2 separate regions of the Homo sapiens genome follow, and region 2 is linked to region 1. Evidence: fine-mapped expression QTL. A gene starts in region 1. The other region holds a variant in brackets. All regions are shown on one strand. Distances are from middle to middle.

Evidence for each region.
Region 2: its variant is fine-mapped to the expression of CFD in whole blood (TOPMed, PIP 0.99).

The regions. Positions count from the first base shown.
Region 1 is chr19:857,003-861,230 of GRCh38, forward strand. CFD (complement factor D) reads left to right here and starts at 2,662. Exons shown (of 5, transcript NM_001928.4): 1 at 2,662-2,742; 2 at 3,615-3,771; 3 at 3,859-4,003. The coding sequence starts at 2,688.
Region 2 is chr19:879,320-883,536 of GRCh38, forward strand. MED16 (mediator complex subunit 16) reads right to left here. Exons shown (of 16, transcript NM_005481.3): 7 at 2,240-2,395; 8 at 618-829. Among named protein-coding and RNA genes, the nearest start is that of MED16, 12 kb to the right of the region's middle. The variant A/G (reference allele first, on the strand shown) is at 2,094.

The sequences.
Region 1 (4,228 bases):
CCTGGGCAACAAGAGCGAAACTCCATCTCAAAAATAAATAAATAAATAAATAAATAAATAAATAAATAAATAAATAAATATAAATAATAATGATAATAATAATAATAAACAACAAACTAGAATCCAGAGTCTCTTGGGCATCTCTGGAGTAAGCCACCACCAGGGGGCAGCACAGCCAGGGCAATGGAGCAGAAGTGACTTCCCCACATTGTGTTTTTTTCTTTTTTGTTTTTAGATGGAGTCTCGCTCTGTCGCCCAGGCTGGAGTGCAGTGGCGCGATCTCGGCTCACTGCAAGCTCCGCCTCCCGGGTTCACGCCATTCTCCTGCCTCAGCCTCCCGAGTAGCTGGGACTACAGGCGCCCGCCACCACGCCCGGCTCATTTTTTGTATTTTTAGTAGAGACGGGGTTTCACCGTGTTAGCCAGGATGGTCTCGATCTCCTGAACTCGTGATCCGCCCGCCTTGACCTCCCAAAGTGCTGGGATTACAGGCGTAGCCACCACGCCCAGCCCTGTTGTTATATCATTTTCTATTCTCTGTGCGTATGAAATAATCCACAGGGGGCCAGGCATGGTGGCTCATGCCTGTAATCCCAGCACTTTGGGAGGCCGAGGTGGGCGGATCACCTGAGGTCAGAGGTTCGAGACCAGCCTGGCCAACATGGCAAAACCCTGTCTCTACTAAAAATACAAAAAGTTAGCCCAGTGTGGTTGCTCATGCGTGTAATCCCAGCTACTCGGGAAGCTGAGGCAGTAGAATCGCTTGAACCCGGGAGGTGGAGGTCGCAGTGAGCCGAGATTGTGCCACTGCACTCCAGCCTGGACGACAGAGCAAGACTCTGTCGCAAAAAAAAAAAAAAAGCAAGAAAGAAAGAAAAAAAGAAGGAAAGAGAAAGAAAGAAAGAAAAAGAAAGGGAAAGAAAGAGAAAAACAGAGAAAGGAAGGAAGGAAATGAGGCTAGGCGTGGTGGCTCACACCTGTAATCTCAGCACTTTGGGAGGCCGAGGCAGGCGGATCACGAGGTCGGGAGATCGAGACCATCCTGGCTAACACGGTGAAACCCATCTCTACTAAAAATACAAAAAATTATCCGGGCGTGGTGGCGGACGCCTGTAGTCCCAGCTACTCCGGAGGCTGAGGCAGGAGAATGGTGTGAACCCGGGAGGCGGAGCTTGCAGTGAGCTGAGATCGCGCCACTGCACTCCAGCCTGGGCGACAGAGCGAGACTCCGTCTCAAAAAAAAAAAAAAAAAGGAAAGAAAAGAAAGAAATGATCCATGGTGAAGAGAAAAGCCGGGGGAACCTCGTGTGCTGCTCCCCCTGGGGACAATGTCTGAGGTCCTCCCCACAAGGTATCCCCATCCTTCTGGTCCCCGCACCATGGATTAATGCAACGTGAATCCCGCTGGCCCCTGTGGGGCAGATGTGAAAAATGGAGCTACACCATGAGCAGGCCTGCAGTCCCAGCACTTCTGGAGGCTGAGGTGGGAGGATCACTTGAGCCCCGGAGGTCGAGGAGGCTGCAGTGAGCTATGATTGCACCGCTGCACTCGAGCCTGGATGAAAGAGCAAGACCCTGTCTGTAATAAAACAAAAACAACACACACAAATCCCCACCTCACAAAAGGCCCTATGGCCCAGATTCTGAGAAGTATTTTATTTTAATTTTTTTGTAGAGATGGGGTCTCGCCGTCTTCCCCAAGCTGGCCTTGAATTCCTGGGCTCAAGAGATGCTCCTATCTGGGTCTCTCAATGTGCCGGGATGGTAGGTGGGAGCCACTGTGCCCGGCCAGCCCTGACTCTGTTCATCAGAACCTGCCCTCAGTGAACAGTTTGGGAGGGGGCGTGTGATCCAGGCTCCACCAACCCAAGGCACCCTTGAGACTTGGCTGGAGTGAGGAAGAATTTTAGGAGGGGCCCACTGAGCCACTGGGTTGAGTGTGGGGTCCCTGGAAACACACCAGGGGAGGCTGGTGAGGAAAGAAGCCATCAGAGAAGAAAGGAGAAGCCAGAAGCAGACACTGGACATTGTTCAGGCACCTGGATCAAGCCACACCTGAAGGCGGACATCCCTGAACTTTCCATATAACTTTCATGATTCAGGCTCCACCCAGTTTGTCTGGGTTTTCCTGTCCCTTGTAGCCAGTCTTCCCAGCTGCCTCTGCCTTGGCCTTTCCAACTTTCTATTCGTCAGGGTGTCAAGCCCCAGAGGCCACAGGGACAGAGACAAAGGTGTCAAGTGACCTTCCTACCCCCAACAGACCTTCTCTCTAATATAGAGGAGGAAAAGAAGGGAGGGTAGCAGGACAAGAAAGTGGGTTGTTTACACGCTGTGGCCTCCAGCTAGGATTGTGAAACACCCTGGGGGACTCTGGGTGTGGTGAAGTTGGGGCCGGGGTGGGTGCAGCCCCCCTCTCTGCCTCCTGCCCATCTGAGGGACTGCCCCCCACCAGGGCCAGCAGGCTGTCAGGCTCACAGAGGCCCGAGGGTCTCCCAGCGACTTGTCGACTCTGGTGTGAGTCTGGCAGGAGGTAACCCAGTCCCGGGGAGGGCGGAGGCTGGGCGGGCGAGTTCCCCTTTCCCCAGCTGGGCCGCTGCCCACCCGGGGAGCGGCCCGCCCCCTCCACCCTCATAAAAGCACCCCCAGGGCCCTGCCTGGGTCAGTGTCTCAGCCACAGCGGCTTCACCATGCACAGCTGGGAGCGCCTGGCAGTTCTGGTCCTCCTAGGAGCGGCCGCCTGCGGTGAGGAGGCCTGGGCCTGGGGTGAGGGACAGGGCTGTGTAGGGGCGTGGTGCTCCCTTCCGTCACACGGACGGTCCTCCAGCCCCTCCAGGTGGGCAGGAAGGGGGTGTCTCTCCTCACTAATGGAAGGCTCTGAACGCTGAAAAATTCTAGAAAATTCAGATTGGAAATCGGAACTTTCTGGAGTCAGCTTTTCTTGCAGACAGAGTCTGAACGTCTGCGTGGAAAACTTCATCTGCGTGGCTGACTGGGCTGGCCCAGGCACTGGCTGGGTCAGCCCCATTTCTCTTATGTCCAACTGGAAGGCACTGCGCCCAGGGTAGGGCGCTGGGATCTGCCCCCGGTCCCCAGCCCACTGTGGGTTCTGTACTCTGGGGCATTCCCGCCCGAGGGTATCTGAGTTTGCAACGCTGAGGGGCCCCAAGACGGAAACGGGATTCTTTTTTTTCTTTCTTTTTTTTTTTGATAGGGAGTCTCGCTCTGTCGTCCAGGCTGGAGTGCAGTGGTGCGATCTCGGCTCACTGCAAACTCCGACTCCCGGGTTCAAGCGATTCTCCTGCCTCAGCCTTCCGAATAGCTGAGATTATAGGCCACGCCGACTAAATTTTGTATTTTTTTTTAAAGTAGAGACGGGGTTTCACCATATTGGCCAGGCTGGTCTTGAACTCCTGACCTCATGATCTGCACCCCCCCCTCCCCCCCCGCCCCCGCGCGGCTTCACAAAGTGCTGGGATTACAGGCGTGAGCCACCGCGCCCAGAGATGGGATTCTTGCGGGGAGCGGCCTGGGGGGTGAGAGCTGGGATCCCGTCAGGCAGCCTCGCCCGGGGGAGGAGTCCACCCCGCGGCCCTCACGCGCCCGCCCACCCACAGCGGCGCCGCCCCGTGGTCGGATCCTGGGCGGCAGAGAGGCCGAGGCGCACGCGCGGCCCTACATGGCGTCGGTGCAGCTGAACGGCGCGCACCTGTGCGGCGGCGTCCTGGTGGCGGAGCAGTGGGTGCTGAGCGCGGCGCACTGCCTGGAGGACGCGTGAGTGCCCGCGCCGCGCGGGGGAAGAGCCCGGGTGCGGTGGGGGGAGTCGGCTGGCACCGACCGCGGACTCCGTCCGGTCCCCAGGGCCGACGGGAAGGTGCAGGTTCTCCTGGGCGCGCACTCCCTGTCGCAGCCGGAGCCCTCCAAGCGCCTGTACGACGTGCTCCGCGCAGTGCCCCACCCGGACAGCCAGCCCGACACCATCGACCACGACCTCCTGCTGCTACAGGTCGGCCCCGTGTAGCGCAGTCCCTCCTGCGGCGCTGGGATCCCCGGCCCACCCTCACTCCACCCCGCCTACACCGCGCCCCGGGTCCAGCCTCGACCTCTCCTGCTGCATGGGGACCCCGCCCCACAACCCCCACACCCTCACCCCGGGTCTAGCCTCGACCTCTCTTGCTGCGCTCGGAGCCCCCCCACCCTCTGCACCCTCACCCCGGGTCCAGCCTCGAAC
Region 2 (4,217 bases), 22 kb after region 1:
AGCCCCACGTGCCCCAGCAGCTCACCTTCCCCTGGTTGTCAATGCCCACCAGCCCCAGCCGCACATGCCCCAGCAGCTCACCTTTCCCTGGTTGTCAATGCCCACCAACCCCAGCCCCACGTGCCCCAGCAGCTCGCCTTCCCCTGGTTGTCAATGCCCACCAGCCCCAGCCCCACGTGCCCCAGCAGCTCGCCTTTCCCTGGTTGTCAATGCCTACCAGGGCCACGCCCCAGCAGCTCGCCTTCCCCTGGTTGTCAATGCCCAGCAGCTCACCTTCCCGTGGTTGTCAATGCCCCCCAAGCCCAGCCCCACGTGCCCCAGCAGCTCACGTTCCCCTGGTTGTCAATGCCCACCAGCCCCAGCCCCACGTGCCCCAGCAGCTCGCCTTCCCCTGGTTGTCAATGCCCAGCAGCTCGCCTTCCCCTGGTTGTCAATGCCCACCAGCCCCAGCCCCACGTGCCCCAGCAGCTCGCCTTCCCCTGGCTGTCAATCCCCACCAGGGCCAGCCCCACGTGCCCCAGCAGCTCACCTTCCCCTGGTTGTCAATGCCCAGCAGCTCGCCTTCCCCTGGTTGTCAATGCCCACCAGCCCCGGCCCCACGTGCCCCAGCAGCTCACCTTCCCGTGGCTGTCAATCCCCACCAGGGCCAGTGACGTCCACGATAGCTGCATAGCCTTTAAGTGGACGGCGGGGCCCGCGGTGCGGGGGCGCTTCATGGCCGGCTCATCCACAGGCCTCGGGGCCGCGGAGCTGTAGAAGACGGCCATGGTCTGCAGTGAGAGCCGGTGCACGATGTGGACGCTGCCGTCGTGGAAGGCCAGGGCCAGCCCTGTGGGGCACAGGCACTGCTTAGACATGGGCAGGGCCCAGGACACGCCCGCCGGGGGAGGGGCCTCCTGCTCTGCAGGGTGTGGAGAGCCGGGGCTGCCCATCCAGGGGGTCAGCCCCCGCCAATCGGCATCCAGCGCCCGTGCCCCCAGCCACTCTTTCTTTAGTTACACAGTCCCTGAGCACCAGGGGAGCAGGAGCCAGCAGCCTTGGCCACACTGCTCCCAGCCCCTCCCCGCCCCTCCCAGCTGGGCCCATGTCCTGGCTGACACGCCCCTCAAGGAGCGCAGGGGAGGGGGGCACTACAGGTGGGGGACCAAGGGTTGGGGCTCCTGGCGTCCCAAAGAGAGGCATCTTAGGGTGGTGGGCTGGGGCTGTCACTCACACTGGGGTCTGCCATTGTACGAGGGCCGGGGGGAGGTGGGGTCCAGAGCCCAAAGCTCATGGAAAAGAGAATATGAAAGGAGTCCCTGCAGTAGAGAGGCTGCAAAGCCGGGCGCGGTGGCTCACGCCTGTAATCCTAGCACTTTGGGAGGCTGAGGCGGGCAGATTGCCTGAGCTCAGGGGTTCGAGACCAGCCTGGGCAACACCGGTGAAACCCCGTCTCTACTAAAATACAAAAAATTAGCCGGGCGTGGCAGCACGCGCCTGTAGTCCCAGCTACTCGGGAGGCTGAGGCAGGAAGGAGAATCGCTTGAACCCAGGAGGCGGAGGTTGCAGTGAGCCGAGATCACACCACTGCACTCCAGCCTGGGCAACAGAATGAGACTCCAACTCAAAAAAAAAAAGAAAAAAAAAAATAGAGCCTGGAAAATGGAGCATAAACCAAGGGTTTTGGAGCAGGGAACTGCATCCCCTCAACCTCTCTGCAGGCTCTGAGGAACAGCCCTGAGCCCCGAGCGGGTTTTGATAAATGCTCTTTCCAGGGAACCAGGGAAGAACGGGAGCTGGGGGAAGAAAGGGCCTGAGCTAGGGCCGACTTGTCCACATTTTACAGCTGAGCAAATAGGGTAGGCACTGAAGAGTGTGCAGACTCACTCATGGGCACGGATGCCACGGTTTGAGCTCAGGACCACATTATGGCTGCTGCAGCACAGAGAGGACACATGCCGCCTACCCAGGAAGGAGTTCCACCAAGTTCCCCAGGCTCCCTTGTTGATTTGCAATGACTCTTTACATATTAAAGAACACTGGATCTGTCTGCCAGCCTCACAGATCCCGAAAGATGAGATCTGCCTCCTAATTGGGAACCCATCAGAACCCAG[A/G]AGGCTGAGCTCCTACAGCCCCATGGCCTGTGCTCAGAGCCCACGTCCTCTGGTGTGAGCTCCCACGACCCCGTGGCCTGTGCTCAGGGCCCAACTCCCCTGGTGTGAACTGAGGCCCCGCGTGGCTGCCGCTGGCTCCACCGTACCGAGGCCAGGGTAGAACTGTGTGTCGCTGGCCACCTTGAGGTCGGTGTTGGTGAGCGAGATGGGCAGCTTGGGCAGCGCCACGGCCGACACACGGTCCAGATCGTTGGTGGCCGATAGGATCCGCCATTTGAGAATTGTGGGCTGTTTGTCGCCAACTGAAAAATCAGGGGCAGGAAAACAGGAAGGCAATGGAGTAAAGACAGGCTGAGACAGCCGCAGGAGTCCAGCATGGCCTGGTGTGCAACCTGCCCAGGGCCCTTCCCAGGTCTCATGCCGCCCTGCTCCCATGCCCAGAAGACCAGGCCCGGCCAATCCGAGCGCTTCGTGCCTCGGCCACTCATTGGTTCCAGGATGGGCACGTGACCCAAGGTGGGCCCTGGGATTTCATGGAAACCTGTGGGCCGGCACCATCTCACCCCCGATGGGGCAGACAGTGGGGAGACGGCGCCACCTCAGACCTGCAGCCATGCAAACCCTAACACTCGCTCGGCCTTAGCCAGCTCAGCCGGGATTCCCATCCCTCCTCATCTACAATTCCAATAAAGCCATGCGGGATGGTCGCACCCACAGATCCGCTGCCTGACAGCCCCTGCGTGAAGACGCAGCTCCTCCCAACAGGGCAGAGACTTCTGGGAATCTCAGGCCAAGCCTTAGCAAATGTGACATGGCCGGGCACAGCAGCTCACATCTGCCACCCCAAGACTTTGGGAAGCCAACGCCAGAGGATGGCTTGAGTCCAGGAGTTCAAGACCAGCCTGGACAACACAGCAAGACCCCATTCTCTACAAAAAAAACACAGTAAACATTAGCTGTGTGTGGTGGTGATGCACGCCTGCACACGCCTGTAGTCCCAGCTACTCAGGAGGCTGAGGTAGGATTGCTCGAGCCCAGGAAGATGAGGCTGCAGTGAGCCAAGATCACGCCACTGCACTCCAGCCTGGGCAACACAGCAAGAGCCTAGCTCAAAAACAAAAAACAAAAACAGTGGCCCAGAGAGCACGTGTGGGGGGTCCTGCTGTGGCTGCATGTGGGACACGGAGGGCAGCTGGAGCCGGCCTGCTGGAGCATGTGCGGCCAGTGGACAGGCCACGCCACCTCGGCTGCTAACCGCAGACACGTGGGAACCAGGAGAGCGCAGCTGAGGCAGCCACAGAAACAGAAACAGTGCAGGGCTGCTGGCCTGAGCTGCTCAGTTTGGGGCTGGCTTGTTACTCGGCTGAAGCTGACTACCACGCAGCTGCTCTGTGCCACCCGCATCATGAGGTCTCTGCCCCGGACGGGCCATCACGGTCACAGAGCCTTGACCTCCTGCAAACCCGTATAGGGGTCCTGTGAGCAGCATTCCCTGGGGGGAAACAGGCCCAGAGAGTGGCTGAGACGCCCAGAGGGCACACAGTGGTCAGGGGTGGCTGGCCCTCATGGAATTGAGCCTCTCATAGGAAAGACAGGAAACTCAACGCCCCAGCGCCGGGGGAGGCAGCTGCCATGACGACCACACCCCCAGCTAGTGGCCAGGGTACCCTCACAGCACGATTTACATCCCCTCCTCCATCCAACTGACGGCTGCGGTCAGCATTCCTAAATGAGGGGGGACTTGAGGCAGGGAGAAGCTAAGCTGCTAAGTGGGGATGTGGGGCAGTGGGTGAAGAGCTGGGCATGGTAGGAACCGAAGCCTGGCATGGTGGGCACGTGGGGCGGTGCGTGAAGAGCTGGGCATGGCGGGGACCGAAGCCTGGCATGGTGGGCACGTGGGGCGGTGGGTGAAGAGCTGGGCATGGCGGGGACCGAAGCCTGGCACGGTGGGCACGTGGGGTGGTGGGTGAAGAGCTGGGCATGGCGGGGACCGAAGCCTGGCACGGTGGGCACGTGGGGCGGTGCGTGAAGAGCTGGGCATGGCGGGGACCAAAGCCTGGCATGGTGGGCACGTGGGGCGGTAGGGGGAGAGATGGGGGAGAGATGGGTGCGGTGGGGACTGTC